3 linked regions of the Homo sapiens genome follow. The protein of the gene in region 3 purifies or fractionates together with the protein of the main gene of each other region. This does not show direct contact. Each region holds a gene or a part of one and is shown on either strand. Other genes may lie near its edges.

The links.
Region 1: the proteins of LTO1 (region 3) and ABCE1 purify together in Homo sapiens (affinity purification with mass spectrometry; 4 studies listed by BioGRID and IntAct, with this or other methods). This does not show direct contact.
Region 2: the proteins of LTO1 (region 3) and TGFBRAP1 purify together in Homo sapiens (co-immunoprecipitation; 2 studies listed by BioGRID and IntAct, with this or other methods). This does not show direct contact.

Annotation. Positions count from the first base shown.
Region 1 is NC_000004.12:145,122,299-145,129,410, reverse strand, and holds part of ABCE1 (ATP-binding cassette sub-family E member 1), read right to left. Parts: intron 6,391-7,112; coding exon 6,280-6,390; intron 6,197-6,279; coding exon 6,054-6,196; intron 5,934-6,053; coding exon 5,811-5,933; intron 4,422-5,810; coding exon 4,310-4,421; intron 1,886-4,309; coding exon 1,838-1,885; 3' UTR 1-1,837. UniProt on the Homo sapiens protein: Nucleoside-triphosphatase (NTPase) involved in ribosome recycling by mediating ribosome disassembly. Able to hydrolyze ATP, GTP, UTP and CTP. Splits ribosomes into free 60S subunits and tRNA- and mRNA-bound 40S subunits.
Region 2 is NC_000002.12:105,319,654-105,326,765, reverse strand, and holds part of TGFBRAP1 (transforming growth factor-beta receptor-associated protein 1), read left to right. Parts: intron 1-7,112. UniProt on the Homo sapiens protein: Plays a role in the TGF-beta/activin signaling pathway. It associates with inactive heteromeric TGF-beta and activin receptor complexes, mainly through the type II receptor, and is released upon activation of signaling.
Region 3 is NC_000011.10:69,672,298-69,679,297, forward strand, and holds the start of LTO1 (protein LTO1 homolog), read right to left. Parts: upstream 3,057-7,000; 5' UTR 2,943-3,056; coding exon 2,893-2,942; intron 1,025-2,892; coding exon 919-1,024; intron 1-918. UniProt on the Homo sapiens protein: The complex LTO1:YAE1 functions as a target specific adapter that probably recruits apo-ABCE1 to the cytosolic iron-sulfur protein assembly (CIA) complex machinery. May be required for biogenesis of the large ribosomal subunit and initiation of translation.

The sequences.
Region 1 (7,112 bases), on a different chromosome or scaffold from region 3:
AGGACATATGAAGTAGTCTCATTCTTTTGCTAACATCTGCATTGATTTTATACTGATTTTATAAGTATTTTTCTTGTGTTAGCAATTGTAGGCCTTTCTGTTGCTATGTAAAATTTTAAGATACATATTTTAAAGATTTCATTTACATGAAAATACGTTTAATACATATTCTGTCATTAGCAGTAAGTAGAACTGTGCTCTTATATCACAAGTACTTTCTTTAAGACAATCCAGGATCAGTAAATAACAATAGCTTTTGCTTATTTTATTCAATATATTTGAAATGATCATTCACAAATTTAACCTATCCTTAAAAATAGGCATTACTTATTTTAGTATAATCCCATTTGTATACAAAACAAACCCTTTACATATTCACACTTAGGTAAGTGCACAGAAAAAAGCATGAAAGAATATACATTATTAAATTCAAACGCTGGTAACCTTTGGGAGGGTAATAAAGGGAGATCATTTTTTTATTCCATTCTGTATATTTGAATTTTTTACAACATGTATTTATGGGTTACTGAAATTATTTTTAAAAGGCATAATAGGGTCCAGTTAAACCATACTTTCTAGCCATTATTTGCATATTAATCAAGACTTCTGTTATTTCAAGTAGCTCTTAAAGTTTGTCAAACAGTTTCTAATTTCCTCCTCAATTTTGCTTGCCCCAGTCATTTATTTAGTAAACACTCTTCCTCACTCATAATTCCAGTTTAGTCAGAAGTACAACTTAAAGTGGCTCCAGGCTCCAGGTAATCCTGTTCAAAATTCAGGAACTCAAGAAATTTAGATGGGTTTTTGGAACTACAAAATGGTTTAGATAATGTGCTCTATATCCAAACTCACAAATGAATATATGTGGTACCAGGGGATACTTTGTATTGCCATCTGGGGACTTTTGCATTAATGTTGCCTTTAGGGAAGTGGTTTATAATCCTTGGCTGCCCAACAGAAAAATCTGTGGAACTTAAAAAAAATACATAGATGCTTAGGCACCATCTTTAAAGATTTCGAGTCTGTAGTTCTAAGGGAAGCAAATATTCTTTAGAAATGCTTTTTCCTAAATCTCAATCAGTGATTATATAAATATATGTGTACAAAAATGACATTACCTAGAGAATGACTGAATACAGAACCTCATGGAATGCAAAAACAAAAAAAGTTCAGAGTAAAGTTAGGGGTTTTTTGCGGGGAATGGAACTGAATTGGTTTTTGCTAAACATGTTTAAAAGCACCAAAAAAGATTAAAAACAATTTAAAAATACCTATTTTTCCAACAGTGGTGTTTTGCAGTAGATAATCTTCCTCGGAAACCATATACTGGTAATATAGTGCAAAGACTGAAAACAAACAATAAACATAATCCTGATGTTTATTTATCAAATGTCAATCAGTGGAATCTTTGACTGGCTTTTAAAATAAGGGCAGTTTCATTACACTGGCATACTTGGCAAACCAGGTAAGTACAGAAACCCTTTTCAAGATTTAAAAAATGGAGCAACACTGGTCAGCATTTGGTACCGTGAATATAATACACCTACTGAAAATCTTCCCATACATCATGAAAACTTGGAAGTAATTTGTATAGCTTGAAATGTCTTCATTTTAGAATATTATGCACAAAAGAGCCTCTTCAGGAACAGAAAAGTGGCATTTTCTGTGTTTCAACTACAATTTAGAACCCAACTGGCTTTTTATGTTATATTAAGTATATTATACTTCAAGTTCCAGAGTATGTGGGGCATAAAATCCTGATTCAAGTTTTATATGACAAAAAATTCTAGTAAATACTCCTTTTAATAAATGGCTTATCAATATTCTCAGAGTCAGTCTAATCATCCAAGAAAAAGTAGTTTCCACTCTTCTTTTGTTCTACATCCTAAAAAAGAAAACAGAAGCCACAAAAATCAGCAACACGATTCTACTATAGGTAAAAGTAGACTTTCACTCATGGTATTACTTAGCTGTGCTTAAAACAGTGCCTGTACAACCTGTTCTGCACATACCATCTGTTTCTGGATATTCCTGGGTCCACTGCTCAAAGGAAAGATAACTACCTCTGCCCCATCCCTAATGCTAGAATGACTCACTTGCACCAACTCAAGTAAAGTCCCTTTATATAAGATGCCTCACATATATAAAATTTTGCTATGTGTTATTATTTCTAGGAAAACTATTAAATTCCATTTTCATCAATGCAACTTTTATCTCCAGATTCAAAATGCAGCATACTGTCAGTTTGAGATCTGCCTACTACACAAAATATATATATATAAAGTTTTTTCCAATACTGGCCAGTAACAATCTCACCTACCTACTTGTTGAGCTGTTCTCTTATTAGGATTAAGGTATGACAATCTTAAGATGAGTAGGCATACAGAAATGATAACTCATGGTGACTGAACCATAAGTCTGTCTAAGAAAATGACAATACAAAGTGTCCTTAATGCTTCCAAAGAAATTCTTCTTTTCTACCCAATATGCTTTTCAAAACTGAGAAAACTCTTCAATTTTATGTGAGAACTTAACCATTTCTCTATCCTGGCCAAGAAGTAATATCAATCAGAAAAAAGGCATCCAGACATACTGTTAGGTGCTTAAGAATACAATGACGTGCAAGATAACTTTGCCTCTGGCATTCCAAGAGCTCATGGTTTAGCAGCAAAGCTAGGACTACAAATATGAAAATAAATGCTACAGCAGAAGTATGTATAACATACTTCTAAAGCTTTTAAGCATTAAGGATGATGGATACAGAGTGATAAAATGTAAACACTTTGAGGCACTGCAGATATTAAAAACAGAAATGATGGCCAGCATGGTGGCTCACGCCTGTAATCCCAGCACTTTGGGAGGCCAAGGCAGGTGGAACACTAGGTCAGGAGTTCAAGACTAGCACGGGCAAGATGGTGAAACCCCATCTCTATCAAAAAAATACAGAAAATTAGTCGGGTGTGGTGGTGGGCACCTGTAATCCCAGCTACTCGGGAGGCTGAGGCAGAGAATTGCTTGAACTCGGGAGGCAGAGGTTGTAGTGAGCCGAGATCACGCCACTGCACTCCAGCCTAGGTGAGAGAGTGAGACTCTGCCTCAAAAAAACAAACAACTAAAACCAAAACCAAAAAAACAACCCAGAAATGCTTTTAGAGTTCATTTACTTTCTGTTTCTGAGTGACTAAGATTTTTGCCTTTTAAGAAACAAATACTGTATTTCACAGAGGAAATCAACTGTAGGGTGCACAACTGTGAACTACAAAGACAAAAAACATTGTCAATTAAGTAGACACAATGTTTTCCTCATCACAGGAGCTTGTTTAGACTTTCAAAATATACTTTTTTTGCGGGGGTTGCGGGGGCGGGGGCAGGGACAGAGACTCGCTCTGTTGCCCAGGCTGGAGTACAGTGGAACGATCTCAGCTCACTGCAACCTCCACCTCCTGGGTTGAAGTGATTCTCCTGCCTCAGCCTCCCGAGTAGCTGGGATTACAGGCGCATGCCACCACGCCTGGCTAATTTTTTGTATTTTTAGTAGAGATGGGTTTTCACCGTTAGACAGGATGGTCTCGATCTCCTTGGCTTCCCAAAGTTCTGGGATTACAGGCATAAACCACTGCGCTTGGCCTAAAATACACCTTTTAATCATGTATTGAAAAATATAACAGAAATTGGTTAAGGTATTCTTAAAAAATTCTTTGTTACAATGGTGAATTAGTGTAATCTTTCCCCAGACATTTTAAGTGGTAATCAATATAGGTAGTACAACTGTGATACAACTTAAAGAGAAAACAGGAAGAGCTCTTGAGTTCACACAGCAATGACAGCTACATTACAATTGCTGCCTACCGCACACTAAAGTATGCCATCAGGTCTTAAAATGTAAAAAACATAGGAATTTTAAAATAAAATATGGTTGTTTTTTAATTTATTTTTATTTTTTTAGACAGAGTCTCACTCTTTTGCCCAGGCTGGAGTACAGTGGGATGATCTCAGCTCACTACAACCTCCACCTTCCAGGTTCAAGTGATTCTCCTGCCTCAGACTCCTAAGTAGCTGGGATTACAGATACCTGCCACCAGACTCGGCTAATTTTTGCATTTTTAGTAGAGATGGGGTTGCACCATGTTGGCCAGGCTGGTCTCAAACTCGTGACCTCAAGTGATCTGCCTGCCTTGGCCTCCCAAAAGTGCTTGAATCACAGGTGTGAGCCACTGTGCCCAGCCATATGTTATTGATTTTTAAATAGCCTTTCAAGTGTTTATACTGAGATCAGTAATCCATGATTTAAGACAACTTTTCTACATACCTTAATTGAATTAAGTTTGTTTATTCGTGGCCTATAGTTGTTTGGATCTCTTCTGAATGTAATTTCAAGCTGAGACAAAAATTTATTCATGCCAGCCAAAAGGGTTTGAGGACTAAGAGAAAAAAAAAAATCAATTTTGATTAAATTTTACTTCAGAAATGTAACTACCTTTTGAGAGGAAGGGTATTAAGAATTACTATTACCTCAAATTCCCCAATCATAAATCATCTGGATAACAGTATAATAACAGCATATTACAAATCCTGTGTTCAGAAATAGCTTTGCTTGGACTATATAGTTTTCTTGGCTGTAATATTTTTGTGCAAAACAAAAAAAAAATTTAACCTGGATTTCTAATCTGGTGAAAGAAACATTTAAGATAGAAGTACTACTTTAGAAAAACAGAAGATAATTAATAAGTAGATTACAGAATCTCCAATTGCACATTTTTAGGGGGGATGAGAATCTTAAAAAGTTATATTTATATGAAAAATTTGTTACTGGAGGGAATATGTCCTCCTAATAGTGGTTTTCAGTGACAATTCCTTTCTAAATTTCTATGCTTAATCGTTTTTACCCAAGTGAGTTCTTAAATCATGCCAAATCACAACATACATGTGAAACATTTTAAAATTTTGTAAATAGAAAGGTGGGATATCACTAGATGAACAAATAAACATCACATATGCTAAGAAATTTCCCTAGCTCTTTAAGAAATATGTAATTCTCAATTTATAAAAAAAAAAAAGGAATTCAGGGAAGAAGCCCAGCAAAATACTTTTATTTCTTAGATGAATTATTAAAATGGCAACTCCATTCCTTGCTCTCCAATACCAGAAAACATGCTGAAACCACATGAAACTGCTGGTTTTATAGGTGAAAACTGAACACCAGTAATTTCATTTAGTTCAATCTAATAATATAGGCTTTAGCACTAAAGGTAAAATGAATTTCTCATAACTTGATCTGAATGTTAGGCTTCTCTATATTGCAAGTGCTCTTAATCAGGCTAACAAGGAAAAATGAGAAGAAAAAACGAAAAAAGTAAAACCATTTATTTTAACTCTGCTATAGATTAATACCAGATATTTGGGATCCACTGTGAGCTCAATCACTGTCAGCATAAGTTGGACAAATCATGTAACCTCTTTAATCTTGTTTTCTTTTTCTATCATGTATGAAAGCAATAGTTTTCAATCTTTTTTGGGAAATTCAAATAATAAAGCAAACAAAAGTTAAGCTGAGAAAAGGTGAGGGGCCCACAGCTTTTTATGCTGTGGCCTACAGCTTTTTATCTTCCTGGTGAGGGATTCCACACTGAAGCCTAAACACTACTCTTCCACATGGTCCCATCCAGTCCCCAATACCAATGATCTCAGGAGTCACAGAATCAAGTCTAGAATTTCTAGCTTTCATTTTTTAAAAATTAAAGTGAGTGACTTTACTATTTACTGGAAAATTTAAAATGAATTACTTTGAACATATTAAAAAGTAATTTTACCTGTTTGCAACTGTGTTCTTAGATGGAACACCATCAAAAACGATGACGCGATCCGCTAGATAGGTGGCCATGATGAAGTCATGTTCCACAACAAAGGCTGTCTTTTTTGCATGGAGTATGAAACTAAAACACAATGATTTTGAAATCTTATAGCTTTCTATCATAAAACATTCGACTGTTATATTAAGCACACTTGTAGGACAGTATACATAATCAAAATATGGCTAGGAGCAAGATATTTACCGTTTGACAACTCGAGCTGCCATCAGTCTTTGCTCAGAATCCAAATATGCAGATGGTTCATCAATTAAATAGACATCAGCAGGTTTGCCCAAGCAAAGGGCTAAAGCTACTCGCTGTAGTTCACCACCAGATAATGTCTGCACCTAATTGGAGGAGTTTAGCAAACCATGTAAAGGCATCCAAAATTCAAAATAATAAAAAAATAAAAAAAATTATGTTAAAGTACCTCTTGATCAATGATGTTTTCAATTTGCAGAGGCTTCATTACATCGGTCACAAATTGTGGGTGAGTATAAGCATCTCTTATCTTTTCATGTAGTAACTGGCGAACACTTCCCTGTTTTTAATATAAAAAAGTATTTAAATGATAAACTTTCACTATAGAACTCTTCTATTTATGAATCTTGACAAAGTTAAGCTTCAGAATAAAAGTATATCAATTTGCCACCAACAGATATCAATGTGTATCCACCATCTATGACATGTTTTGAGATTTTCTATTCAAAACCCATCATGTCCAACAAGTAAAAAGGAATTTTTTTTTTTCTTTTGAGACAGGGTCTTGCTCCATTGCCCAGGTGTGCAATGGCATGATCAGGGCTCACTGCAGCATCAACCTCCCAAGCTCAAGCGATCCTCCCACTTCAGCCTCTAGAGGAGCTGGAACTACAGGCATGCACCACCATGCTGAACCAATTTTTAAGTTTTTGTGGAGGCGGAATCTGTTGGTCAGGCTGGTCTTAAACTCTTGGGTTCAAGTGACCCTCCTGCCTCAGCCTCCCAAAGTGCTGGGATTACATGCGTGAGCTACCATGCCCAGCCTGCAACAATCTTTTTTTTTTTTCCACTCCACAGCCCCTGCAATAATTTTAAAATTAGAAAGTAATAAGCAAATAATGAATGTTTCAGAGGAAAAATCATTTAAGAGTAGAAATTCCAAAGGTCAAAGTGGGTATCAAGCAACCTTAGGCAATCAGTAAGAGAACACAAAATGCATGATAATGTGCTAGGGATGAATCCTAAGATGGCTTTTCCTTGCTGTTTCAGGATAAGGCTGAA
Region 2 (7,112 bases), on a different chromosome or scaffold from region 3:
GACTATCAAGTCCTGTAGGTACTCAATAATTTTTTTTTTCTTTTTTTGAGACAGGGTCTCACCCTGTCACCCAGGCTACAGTACAGTGTCGTGTTCTCGGCTCACTGCAACCTCCATCTTCCAGGCTCAAGTGATCCTTCCACTTTAGCCTCCCAAGTAGTTGGGGCTATAGGCACATGCCACCATGCCCGGCTAATTTTTGTATTCTTCTATAGAGACAGAGTTTCACCATGTTGCCCAGGTTGGTTTTGAACTCCTAAGCTCAAGCAATCCATCTGCCTCGGCCTCCCGAAGTGCTGGGATTATAGGCATGAGCCACTGCTCCTGGCCAGTACTCGATAATTTTTTGTGGCTGTTTGAAGGTTCAGTATTGAGGAAGATGTTATGAAGTAAATGCCATATTTCTATTCTGCTCTTCTTCTACCTCCCACTTCTCTTCCTAAACCCTTTTAATTCTAACTGCTGATGGTACTCTTATAGGATGTATATTATATATATGTACATACACACACACATACACCCTTATGCATATGTATGTATACACACACCATATATAGTATGTGTATATATGTGTGTGTATATAAATATATGTTTATATGTATTTAAATAATTTTGATTAGTATTGCCCAGTAAAAAGGATACCAACTATGAATAGTTACATATATTAAATATACATCATGATAATATTAAGATGACAAGTTAGATATTAGACCTTAACTGTCTTTTTTTAATCCTCTTTTTTTAGATACTCTTGCAGATTATCAGAGCAGGTTCATTGCACTATAACTAATCTTGCTGTCTCTGTTGCATGAGTGCAAAAGATAACATAAAATGGTTGTCAAGCAGTATCTTCATTTTCAAAGGGGGGAAAAGTTGACTTTTGTACAAGCCAGTAAATTTATTGTTGATTCCTGACAAATTTCAAGATTGAGTCATTCAACAGATGGCTGTGGGACTTAGAGAAGAACACGGGACCAGCATGGGGTGCAGCTCAGGAAAAGCAGTTGCTGTCACATAAATGTGTATCCTGTTTTGGTAGATTACTATGTTAGTAGAGAACTGTGTCAACATACTATTCTGTGTCTGAATTTCAGCAAGCAGATAGAGCCACAGGATTCCTCTTCTAGACTCACGGTGGGGAAGCAATAGCAAAGACTCCTCAGGAACTGCAGCAGCATGCCACTCTAAGTACCATAGTGGCCTCCTGCTGAGAGTTGTTGCTTTGTTCAGAACTGAATTCTAGGAGAGGATCTGAAATCATACTTGTTCCCCTCAATCAATAAGAATATGGCCTTGGAGTCACGAACAAAAACTAGGGTCAAAGCCCTGTTTCATCACCTTGTAGCCAGGTAACCTTGAGCAAGCCACCTAAGATCTCTGTATCTCCATAATAATGTCCACCTCTCAGCGTCAAGGTAAGAACGAAAGGATAATGCTATATCGAGTGTGCAGTATCCCACCAAACCCAGTTTTGGGGCTCTCCTGAGGGGGCAGTCAGGGTGTCAGCCAGGGCTGCAGCCTATGGGTGCCATCCATCATCCAGGCTTGGGGCAGCATTGGCCTTGGGAGCCAGTGTGGCATCTGATTAAGGATGTGTGCTTTGGAGCTGACTACCTGGGTTGGAATCCCAGCTCTCTACTTACCAGCATGACTCTTCCACCTTTCAAGACCTCCATTCCCTTCCTCTTCATCCAGAAGTAGCTGGAGAATGGTATAGGAGAAGCACACAGCCCAGTCCAAATTTCTGTTTTATAGAGAACACAGGCCCAGACAAAGCCTCTTAGTGAGTTGCCTAAGATCATCAGGAAGTGACCAAGCAACAAGCAGAGCTCAGGATTCCCAGATTAATGTCGGGAATGTCTGCTATGCAGCGTGCCCACATTTACCACAGTTCACTGCCGGGGTGGCCCAGTTTCGCTCTGGGGCCTTGATCCTTATTACTGAGGGGCTGTGCTCCTTCCCAGCCTGAGTGTCCACCCTCAGAGTCCCCCACTTAACTGCTTCTCCCAAAGCTCATGGTATATCCAATTCTGAACACAGCAGGAGTCAGCTCACATTCACCCCAACCCAATCTCAGCCCCTCTGTCAGGGGAAAGACTCCAAATGAGTAAAACTCCCAAACTCTCCTCTGAAATGCATTTTCAGAAGGAAAAAAAAACTTTTAACTTATGGGTATTATTCATGCTTGTAATTTTAAGCGAGGACACTTGGCTGGAGAAAAATCACCTCTAAAAGTGGCTCAATAAAAAAGGCTCCAGTAGCCCAGAGTGTGCTAGCGCAGTCCTGGGCTGGACTGATGGGTATTGGTTCATGCTTGTCCTTTTTAGTCACTGACACAGTCTTATGACTGTTTCCTTTCCTGCTAGAAAAGGAGATTCCCAGGTTTCTTTTCTATTTCTTGATCACTCTAAGGTGAGATAATTACCCAATATACCACGATTACATTTTCATTTTAAAATTTGAAGTAATTTTGGACTTACCTAAGAGTTGCAAAATAGTGCAGAATTCATGAATACACTTTACCCAGCTTCCTCTTTTGTTAACGTCTTGTATGGCTGTAGTATAATGATCAAAATGAATCAATTAGTGCTAGTATACCACTATAAAGTGCACACAGTATTTGAATTTCACCCGTTTTTCTGCTTAATGTCTTTTTTCTGTTCCAGGATCCTTTTTCTGATCCAGTTTCCCCACTTTGCATTTAATTGTCACTTATTCTTGGCTTCTAATCTGTGACAGTTCCTCAGCCTTTCCTCTTTTTTCGTGACCTTAACACACTTGAAAGGGTGTGAGAGATTTTGTAGACCATCCCTCAGTTTGGATTTATCTAAACTCCTCCAATTCCCATGGGGGATTCGAGATGCTCTCTGACAATCACCTTCACAATCTATAGAAACAACACATTTAAGAAAACCACATCAGTATCTCAAGACTTTAAGTCAACCCGTAAACCTACCAAAATGCATTTTTCAGATGGGACTTCAGTGATTGTCAGAGAGCCTATCAAACCCCCCATGGGAATTGGAGGTGTTTGGCAGTTTGTTTTCTAGTAGGGACTTTTGTTGACATCTCATTTCACTCATTTAGCACAAACACTGCATCTGAAGGTAGCTTGCAGTGGGAGAATATTGCTGGCAAGGTTTGCCTTTTCTCACCCAATATAGAATTTTGAGGCTGTGATTTGGCTCTTCATTCAGTCAGGAATGCAGCATGGGAAATAGAGGTTTTCAAGCCTTCACTCCCTGCTGCCTGCAAAAAAAAGTGTCCAGTCATACCTGCCTGTCCTGCTCAATACCCACGATATGATGGTCAGGAGAGGAAGAATGGGCATGAGGTTGGTGCCTGTGCCAAAGGGAGATAGGAAGGTCTGAGTTTGCACTGAGTCCCAAGGGGTCGCAGAGATAGAGGCTGAGCAGCAGGTCCCTTGGCAGCTGCCCACGCTGTTTCTGTTTCAGGAAGCTGACAAAGCCAGAGGTGGGTGTCAGCACATCCCCCCGCCCCCTCTACTGAAGTCACCACCTGACTTTTCCAGGCTCTCCCTCCTCATCCAGGCGTCACAAGAGCCACCATCACTGGGACCACAAGAAAACTGGCCTCCAATGCATGCTTCTGAGTCTTTCTCTCTTAAACTTCTCAGGACCAGCCTCAAAAAACATGGGGAATAAGGCAAGGTGTCCCACTGTGTTGCATACCACCCTTTTCCTTCACCTTCCTCCTCACCACCATGGTTTGCTTTTGGCTGAGTCCTCGGTGATTTAGCTTTCTCTCCTAATTATATGGCACCAGCATCCTGACTGGTTGATTGGGAGCTGTGAACGGCTGAAGTGTGCCAAGCTCTGTCTGCCCCCCATCCGTCTCAAAGGCTGTTAGGATCTATGGCAACTTTTGTCAGTTCACTTATAGGTTTGGTTTTTAGAGCTAATATATGATATACAGTCATGCATCAGTTAATGACTAGGTTATGGTCTGAGAAATCTCCCATGGGGCAATTTTGTCATCATATGAACATCATAGAGTGAATTACACAAACCTGGATGGTACAGTGTATTATACACCTGTATAGCTTCATACCCTAAGCTATATGGGTATGGCCTATTGTTCCTAGGGTGCAAACCTATACAGCATGCTACTGTCCTGAATCTCTAAGCACAAGAGAATCTTGTAACACCAAAGTATGTGTGTATCTGAACACATCTAAACACAGAAAAGGGATAGTAGAAATACTGTATAAAATACTAAAAAAAGGGTCCACCTGTATGGGGCACTTACTGTGAATGGAGCTCGCAGGACTGGAAGTTTCTCTGGGTGAGTCAGTGAGTAAGTGGCAAGTGAAAGTGAAGGCCTAAAACATTACTGTACAGTACCATAGACTTTGTAAATATTGTACACTTAGGCTACACTAAATTTATTCTAAAAATACTTCTCTTCAGTAATAAATGAGCTTACTGTAACTTTTTGACTTTATAAACTTCTTTAAAAGTTTTTCACTCTTTGTAATAACATGTAGCTGAAAACATGTTGTATAGCTGTACAAAAATATTTTCTTTATATGCTTATTCTATAAGTTTTTTCTTTCTTTTTTTTTCTTTAAACTTTTTGGTTAAAAATGAAGACACAAACACACACACATTAGCCTTGGCCTGCACAGGGTCAGGATCATCCTTATCCCTGTCATCCACCTCCACATCTTGTCCCACTGGAAGGTCTTCGGGGGCAGTAACATGTGTGGAGCTGTTGTCTGTGATAACAATTTCTTCTTCTGGAGTCCTCCTGAAGGACTGTTTTACAATTAACTTATTTTTTCCTGCATAAGTAGGTGTACGCTCTAAAATAATGATAAAAAGTGTAGTGGAGTAAATACATAAACCAGTAACATAGTCATTTATTATTATATCAAGTACTACATACTGTATGTAATTGAATGTGCTAGACTTTTCAACGACTGGCACTGCAGTAGGTTAGTGTACGCCAGCAACACCACACATGAGTGATGCATTTTGCTACAATGTTCCAACAGTTAGATTGTCACTAGGTGATAGGAATTGTTCAACTCCATTATAACCTTATGGGACCACTGTTGTAGATGCTGTCTGTTGTTAATGGAAATGTCATTATACAGCACGCCACTGTGTTCAGTTTTCCCCTGTGATGGACATTGCTATCTGTCTATGGCTTCATGGTCTTAGTAGATATGTTTATCCAGGTTAATTGAGAAACTGCTTCTCAGAGAAACATTTTTTTTTCTATAAAAGTTCTATATTAAAATGGCAAAATAGAAACTTGAAAAACATCATTGTAGGCCAGGCATGGTGGCTCACACCTGTAATCCCAGCACTTTGGAAGGCCGAGGTGGGCAGATCACCTGAGGTCAGGAGTTCGAGACCAGCCTGGCCAACACAGTGAAACCCCATCTTTACTAAAAATACAAAAAATTAGCCAGGCATGATGGCGGCTGCCTGTAATCACAGCTACTCAGGAGGCTGAGACAGGAGAAGCACTTGAACCTGGGAGGCAGAGGTTGCAGTGAGCCGAGACCGTGCCACTGCACTGCAGCCTGGGCAACAAAGCAAGAGACTCCATCTCAAAAAAAAAAAAAATAAATAAATAAATAAGTCATTGTATTTATACAAAAACTGTAAATTGTAGGAAGATGCAAAGAAAGAAAGATACTCACGCCTAAAGCCAGGATCCCTGCCATCAGCCAGTCAGAGGAAGTCCAGTGTGTGGGAATCTGTGCCGTCCCCCAGAGCCCATTCTGAGGCTGCCCTTGTCCACCAGACGTTGCTACTTTTCATATGGACTAGCGACAGATGAGAAGGAGGCAGTGTGTTTTCCTTTAGGGATTATTACGTTGTTAAATTCGATCCCACCACTGTAGTTAATGGTAACTATTTTCTGACTCATAGTGTTAATCCTTTGGAAAGGTATCTAGAGAGTAGTGTTTACTGAAATCCCTTTTGACAACTGCTTGGTTTGTGGAGTGCCTTGGACACTTACAGGCTCTTTGGAACTCAGCAGCAATTCCGAACTGATTGTAGCTTATACAATAAGAGACTGATATTATGGAACAATAAGAATAGGTTAATAGCTATAATTTTTCTTACTAAATAAAGGAGGAAAGGTTGGCTGAGGTTAAAATTTTAAGGGCTGTGCTTCTTAAGCTGAGTCTGGAGTTTATCTTTTGGGCAGGGAACTACCTTCTGGTATGTTATAAGGAGGATAATGACCTAGTGTTTCAGGTGTGTGGCCCACATTCCTGCCTCCTTTCTGCATTGCCTTCAGATCTGACCTGGCTTTGGTCCAAATGTTAGAATGACCACTTGATCTCTATTCATTTTTGATGGACTATCATAAAGAAAAAAAAAAAACTTCTTGCTGTAAAATGAGAAAATAACAAATCTTACTTGAGGTAGTGTGTCCTTTTTAAAATGCAGATACAGAATTAATTTTTAGCTTATTCATAGGACAGTGCCTTCTATTATAGGGCTGAGTTTTTGCGGTTCCTCCCCCAGGGTGATGAAGTTCTGGTGCACATATAGCTGCATAGGTTTCTGAAGAGTCTGTTTCATTTATAAGCTGTGAAGTAATTAGAAAATGTGAGGGTTTTTTGCAGACACGTAGGACACCAGGCCAAGCTTAAAGTTGGCTCTCAGGTGGACATTATTTGGTAGAGCAGATAACAAAGTGTCATTCTTTGATTCAAGAATAATTACTGGTAAAGAGCCCATTTTAATAAATGCCAGTTTGTCATAGCATTCTTTTTGGCAGAATATATTTATCTCTGTACCAGATTAGGAGTTTCCTATTGTGTGTGTGTGTGTATGTATGTGTGTATATAACATGTATGTATGTATGTATATAACAAATATATATATTTCAATATATAACAAATATATATTTCACTATATAACAAATATATACACACATACATATATGTATATATGCATTAAACACATATATACCTATATATGTTAAACATATATATTAAAATCTTATATATGTATTATGCTAATATTTATATAGTTAATGTTGGAGTTACAAGCCTCTTTTTTTTTCTTTCCTTTTTTTTTTTTTTGAGAGAGTTTTGCTCTTGTTGCCCAGGCTGGAGTGCA
Region 3 (7,000 bases):
CTCTGGCTGACACCCTGAGCCAGGACCACCCAGCAAAGCTGCTCCTGAGTTCCCAACCCTCAGAAACATGTGAGATCATCCATATTTGCTGTGTTAAGCCCATGAATTTTGTGGTGATCTGTTTCACAGCATCGAACATCCAATATAGTCATAACTGCCTCAACTCAGACTTTGCCACTAAGGGCCACTTATCTGTAAGGGCCAATCTAGGACAAAGGGCAAGAAGAGAAAAAAAAAAATCATAAAGTTAATGAAATTTCAACGTAAACATAAATGGAATATGTTCACATGACAGAGGGCACCCATTCTTTGGCTTAGTACATGAGCCAGCACCATGACACTCCCAAGTAAACTAAGGAGACCAGGGACTTGTTTTCTTTTATCCAGCATGCATAATTTAATTGTATCTACCTACAGCAAAATGCACTCTTGGTTCTGTACTAAGAATATTTCTCCAGCAACAGTCCATCTAGTCCATTAACTCCCATGCAAAGGCACTGTGATTTTTTTTGTTTATTTTTTGGAGATGGAGTTTCATCCTGTCGCCCAGGCTGCAGTGCAATGGCACGGTCCCGGCTTACCACAACCTCTGCCTCCCAGGTTCAAGCGAGTCTCATACCTCAGCCTCCCAAGTGGCTGGGATTACAGGCATGCACCACCATGCCCAGCTAATTCAGTATTTTTAGTAGAGACAGGGTTTCACCATGTTGGTCAGGCTGGTCTCCAACTCCTGACCTCAAGGCGATCCACCCACCTCAGACTCCCAAAGTGCTGGGATTACAGGTGTGAGTCACCGCGCCCATCCGGCACTGTGATTTTAAAAGGCCTGACAATTCTTACTCCATCACACTGAATATCGAAATAAATTATAAATTGTAAATGAAGAGGCTTCATCTCCAGATGGGGGTTCCCACTTACCTCAGACCCGATTTTGGCTCCATGCAGCGTGCCATGCTGCCTTCCCTCCATCACACCCAAACTACTGCCTTCTTCATAGCCTTCCCGATACCCTTCCCCATGAAACCTGTGAAGAAGAAGCATGCTTCATCAAATCAACAGGAGAAAGAATACTTTCTCCAGAAAAACTTCTCTCTCTTGTATTACCCGGACCCAGTAAGACAAACCAGAGTAAAGGAGGAAAAGCCTAAAATTCAAGTCAGAAGACACAGATTCCAGTCCCAGATCTACCACTTCCTATTTGCCTCTGGAAGTCACTGTACCTCTTGTAGCCCAGTTTCTTCATCTACAACAAAGGGCTAAATTAGGGATTCCCAAACCTGATAGGGTACTAGAAACACACAAGGAAAATTCAAAGATATTAACTCAAAAGCCTCACCCCCAGAGATTCAGTACGTCTGGAGCAAGGCCCTGGAATCTACTTTTCTTTCTTCCTTTTTTTTTTTTTTTTTTTTGAGACAGGGTCTCTGTTGCCCTGCCTGGAGTGCAGTGGTATGATCACAGCTCACTATAGCCTCAAACTCCTGGGCTCAAGCGATCCTCCAGCTTTGGCCGCTCCAAGTGTTGGGATTACAAGTGAGGGCCACCGCACCTGGCCTGCAATCCACTTTTCTTTTCTTGAGATGGAGTCTCGCTTTGTCGCCCAGGCTGGAGTGCAGTGGTGCGATCTCGGCTCACTGCAAGCTCTGCTTCCCGGGTTCACGCTCTCCTGCCTCAGCCTCCCAAGTAGCTGAGACTACAGGCGCCCACCACCACATCCGGCTAATTTTTTGTATTTTTAGTAGAGACGGGGTTTCACCATGTTAGCTAGGATGGTCTGGATCTCCTGACCTCGTGATCCGCCCGCCTCGGCCTCCCAAAGTGCTGGGATTACAGGCGTCAGCCACCGCATCTGGCCCGGAATCTACTTTTCAAAGTCTCCTAGATAAGTCTGGTTTGCAGCCAGAGTTAGGGGGCCAAAGTTCTGTGAGTGTTCAAGTAGCACTAGCCCAAGTCAACCGCTTCCAAAAAACTGCAACATACACAGGGTTTGACATCACATGGGTAGGGCAACAGAGAGAAATGGCATCAGATCACCACAAAATGTTCTCCGACTGGTACCCGGAGTAGCACTGACCCTGAGGCCCAACAGTGGAACTGCCACTATCTTAACCTGCAGTCACCAAACATGCAAGGAGTGGGCTGCAGCGCCCCATGAAGCAGGGTGCATAGCTCCCCACTTAATAGTTGTGTGACCCTGGAAAGTGACTGTGCCTCCTAGTCTGTAAATTCCGAAGAATAATAGGATCCACTTACTAAGTAGGGCTGAAGTAGATAACCAGGGTGGAACGTTTAGCTCAGTGTCTGACTCACAGCGCGAGCTAAATAAACGTCAGCGCCTGACTGCTAAATGTTCGGCCGCTTTCTTAACTAACATCTATGGACGCGTCCTCTGGGCCGGGCACTGGAAGTCAGCCAGGAGGCAACTCACAGCTCCCCCACTGTCGCAGCACGAGGGGCTCCCCAGGGGCTCTGGAGGGAAAAGGGGTGTGGTCGGGTACATCTATCAGCACATCCATGAATACTGCCGTATGTCCTATGATTAAGGAACCAGAAAAAAAGGCAGCTCCCAGATGGCAAAGGTCTGTCCTCCCAGAGGACGAGGCGGCCTCGGAGGAGGGGAACCACCAGGCTGAGCAGATGTTTGGGGCAGCCCTGACAGGGAAGGCGGGTCTGGAAGAGCAGCTGGGCACGTGCCCCGCCGGAGCGGGCCAGGAGAAGAGGACCAGAGCATCAGGCCCACACTTGTCCCTGCGTCCACGGCCACCAGGCGCTCCCCAATGCGCACGCCCAAGGGACGCCAGGCTCCAGCAGCCGCCCTGGGCCGCAGCCGGCGGCGAAGCCGCTGGGAGACGACCAGACAGGGCGGGGTGCGGGCCCGGCCTCACCACCCACCTCTCATCCGCCATCACGATGGCATCGAATATGTCCTGACTGCCAGCCATAGCGGCAAGCAGCCCGCCCTTGGCCCCCGGGTTTCTGCAGCCCCGCGGTGCCGTAGCAGACCCGGCAGCTTCAGGCACAAATGCTCCGCTTGGGAGGAGACGAGACCCACTTCCGGAAGCGGCGGCGCGGGGCAGGCCGGGTAAGAACGGCACGCGGGAGGGCCCAAAGCAGCCTGTACATGGCGCATGCGCGGCTGCAGCGGTGGGCGGGGCCGGCCTCGACTGAAGCCCCGCCCTGGGGTCCTTTCGCCCTGCCCAGCTCCAGCAAAGGGCCTGTCTGTCCGCGCTGGGAGCGTCCATTGGCCGCGCGCGTGGAGAGCCGACCTGTATTTTACCACTGCAGATAGAACCGAATTTCCCAAAGTGGCTCCGAAAGAACCAAGGAAGAAATGGGAAGTCATCAGCTGGCGCGGTGGCTCACGCCTGTCATCCCAGCACTTTGGGAGGCCGAGGCGCGCGGATCACCTGAGTTCGGGAGTTCGAGACCAGCCTGGCCAACATGGTGAAACCTCGTCTTTACTGAAAATACAAAAATTAGCCGGGCATGGTGGCAGGCGCCTGTAATCCCAGCTACTCGGGAGGCTGAGGCAGGAGAATCACTGGAAGCTGGGAGGCGGAGGTTGCAGTGAGCCGAGATCGCACCACTGCACTCCAGACTGGCGACAGAGCCAGACTCCGTCAAAAAAAAAAAAAAAAAGGGAAAAGAAATGGGAAGTCATCAAAGAACCGACGCCTCAGGAGGCTCCAGGCCAGGAGGCTCTGCATGTGGGATTTTGGGCAGAAATTTGTCGGTTTTAGTTCTCATATTTGTCATTTCCATGAGATGTGCTTTCTGAACACGATTTTTAAAAAGGGATTTCAAAGTCTAAGCGACAACGGAACTCAGATGAGAAACACCAGAAGCATTCCTAATAAAGTCAGTAGTAAAACCTCACGTGACCACTGAACATCTTTCTACCAGCCCTGGCCAATGCAGTAAAACATGAAGCAAGAAGTGGAAATACCAAAAAAAAAAAAAAAAAAAAAAAAAGGCAGAAATACTACTATTTGCAGATATGATGGCCCACGTGGAAAACCCAAATAGTCACCTAAGACGTTCTCAGAATCCATAATCGCAGCAAGTAGCTATGTGTATGATGAATAGGGAAAAAAACACTTTCTGTTATTCCAACAATAATTGGTAGTAACCTGAGCAGGGGTGGTGATGGGAAAATCGCCTTATGATAGTCATAATACATTTCTTAGAAATAAGAATTTCTAACAATTTGAGCAGGACCCATATAAGGAAAACTACAGCTCTACCATGATTGAGGATTGGGGAACTGAACAAGTGCAGTACCAAAGAAAATTCCATGAGATCTGGTAAAATGTGTCAAAATCCTAAACTTTTTCATCCGTATGAATAAACTAATAAAAATAACTAAGATGTTTTAGAAAAAAATGATTTTCATATCAGATATGAAAAGATAAAGTGTCAATATAAATATTGTGGTATGTTGGTTCAAGAAGTGGCAGACCAGTGAAATAAAGTAAATGGCCCAGACAATGGACTCTCATAGATGTAAAGCCTTCTCATGTGGTAAAAAGAAGAATTACAAATTAATTGGAGAAAGGAAATATTAACTAATAACTATAATGGAAAATTGGTTGTTTGGGAAAAGCTTGGTTCCATTTATGCCTCACACCATTCATCAAAATAATTCCAGATGAGTTAAAGAGTTAACTTAAAAAAATTAAGCACATTGGCTGGGCACGGTGGCTCACGCCTGTAATCCCAGCACTTTGGGAGGCCCAGGCAGGTGGATAACCAGAGTTAGGGAGTTCGAGACCAGCCTGACCAACATGGAGAAACCCCGTCTGTACTAAAACTACAAAATTAGCCTGGCGTGGTGGTGCATGCCTGTAAGCCCAGCTACTCGGGAGGCTGAGGCAGGAGAACCCAGGAGACAGAGGTTGCAGTGAGCCGAGATCACACCATTGCACCCCAGCCTGGGCAACAAGAGCAAAACTCCATCTCTAAATAAATAAATGAATAAAGCACATTTTGCCTGTAATCCCAGCACTTTGGGAGGCCGAGGCGGGCGGATCATGAGGTCAGGAGATCGAGACCATCCTGGCTAACATGGTGAAACCCCGTCTCTACCAAAAAATACAAAAAAAAAAAATTAGTGGGGCATGGTGACGTGTACCTGTAGTCCCAGCTACTTGGGAGGCTGAGGCAGGAGAATGGCATGAACCTGGGAAGTGGAGCTTGCAATGAGCCGAGATCGCGCTACTCTACTCCAGCCTGGGTGACAGAGCGAGACTCTATCTCAAAAAAAATAAAATAAAATAAAAATAAATAAATAAATAAATAAAATAAAGTACATTAAAAAATCTAGGTGGAACATTCAGACAAGTATGAAGATGCTCTTTTAACACATAAAAGCCATGAAGGAATTCTCAGCAAGCAAAACCAACATTTTACCATGTAAAAATGCAAACTTGTGTGTACCAAAAGTGATAAGAAACAAAATTTAAAGTTAAAGAACAATATGGGGAAATATTTGTCATAAATATTGTAACTAAAGAAATAATAATTCTGGTAAAGAGTTTATTTAAATACATGTATTTATTTAAATAAATACATCCTAACGGGGAAAAAAAAGGACTTGAAACATTATTCACAGAAAGAGCAACAGCTGGCCAATCAGGAAAAGCAGACGCAGCCTCACTAGTAACCAAAGCAATGCTGAGAAAGAATAATGAGATGCATTTTTTATCTTTTAAAATAGCTTAAGTTCTTTTTCTCCTTTTTTAGAATTAAAAGATACTCTTAATGAGCACAAGTGCATACATTGAAGACACCTCTTGGTCAGGCAGTTCAAAAACATAGGAAGGGCATTATATATATATATATTTTGTTTGTTTGTTTGTTTGTTTGTTTGTTTGTTTTTACTAGCTAGGCGTGGTGGGTCACGCCTGTAATCCCAGCACTTTGGGAAGTCAAGGTGGGTGGATCACCTGAGGTCACCAGTTCCAGATCAGCCTGGCCAAACAGTGAAACTTCGTCTCTACTAAAAACAAAAATTAGCCGGGTGTGGTGGCACGCTCCTGTAGTCCCAGCTATTCTAGAGGCTGAGGCAGGAGAATTGCTTGAACCTGGGAGGTGGAGGTTGCAGTGAGCCGAGATTGTGCCACTGCACTCCAGACTGGGCGACAGAATGAGACTCTGCCTCAAAAATAGAATAAAAAAGTTTTTTTTTGCCCCTGGACCTAGTCATTTCACTTCTAAGACTTCATCTCTAGGAAATAATCAAAGACAAGTCAAAATATTATGTACAGTGTTGTTCAGTGCAACACGATTTGTAAAAGGCAAGGCAAGGAAAGCAGCTACATTGACAAAATGGTGGAATTATGACATGTATTGTAGGCTATTCATGTTGAAGACTCCTAAGCAACCATTACAAATAATATTTCAACAAAAGTAACATCATGGAAAATGCCCATGATATTTCAAGAAAAAGAAAAAAAAATCCTCTATGTGAGGCTGCAGTGAGCTATGACCATACCACTCCACTGCAGCCAGGCCAGGGCAACAGAGTGAAATCTCATCTCAAAAACATAAAAAGAAAGAAAAAGAAAAAGAAAAAAAAACACTCTACATATACTCGAATTGCAATCACACTAAACACTATTTCAAAAGAATGAGAGTAGCCAGGTGAGGTGACTCACACGTATAATCCAACACTTTGGGAGGCCAAGGTGGAAAGATTGCTTGAACCCAGAGTTCAAGACCAAGCTAGGTAACATAGTGAGACTTCATCTCTACAAAAAAATAGAAAAAATTAGCCAGGCACGGTAGTGTGCTCCTGTAGTCCCAGCTACTTGGGAGGCTAAGGCGAGAGGATTGCTTGTTCTCAGGAAATTGAGGCTGCAGTAAACCGTGATCGTGCCACTGCACTCCAGCCTGGGCAACAGAACGAGACCCTATCTCAAACAAAACAAACAAACAAACAAACAAACAAAAAACCAGAAAAGAAAAAAGGAAGAGAAAAAAGAGTGAAAGCAAGTACAGC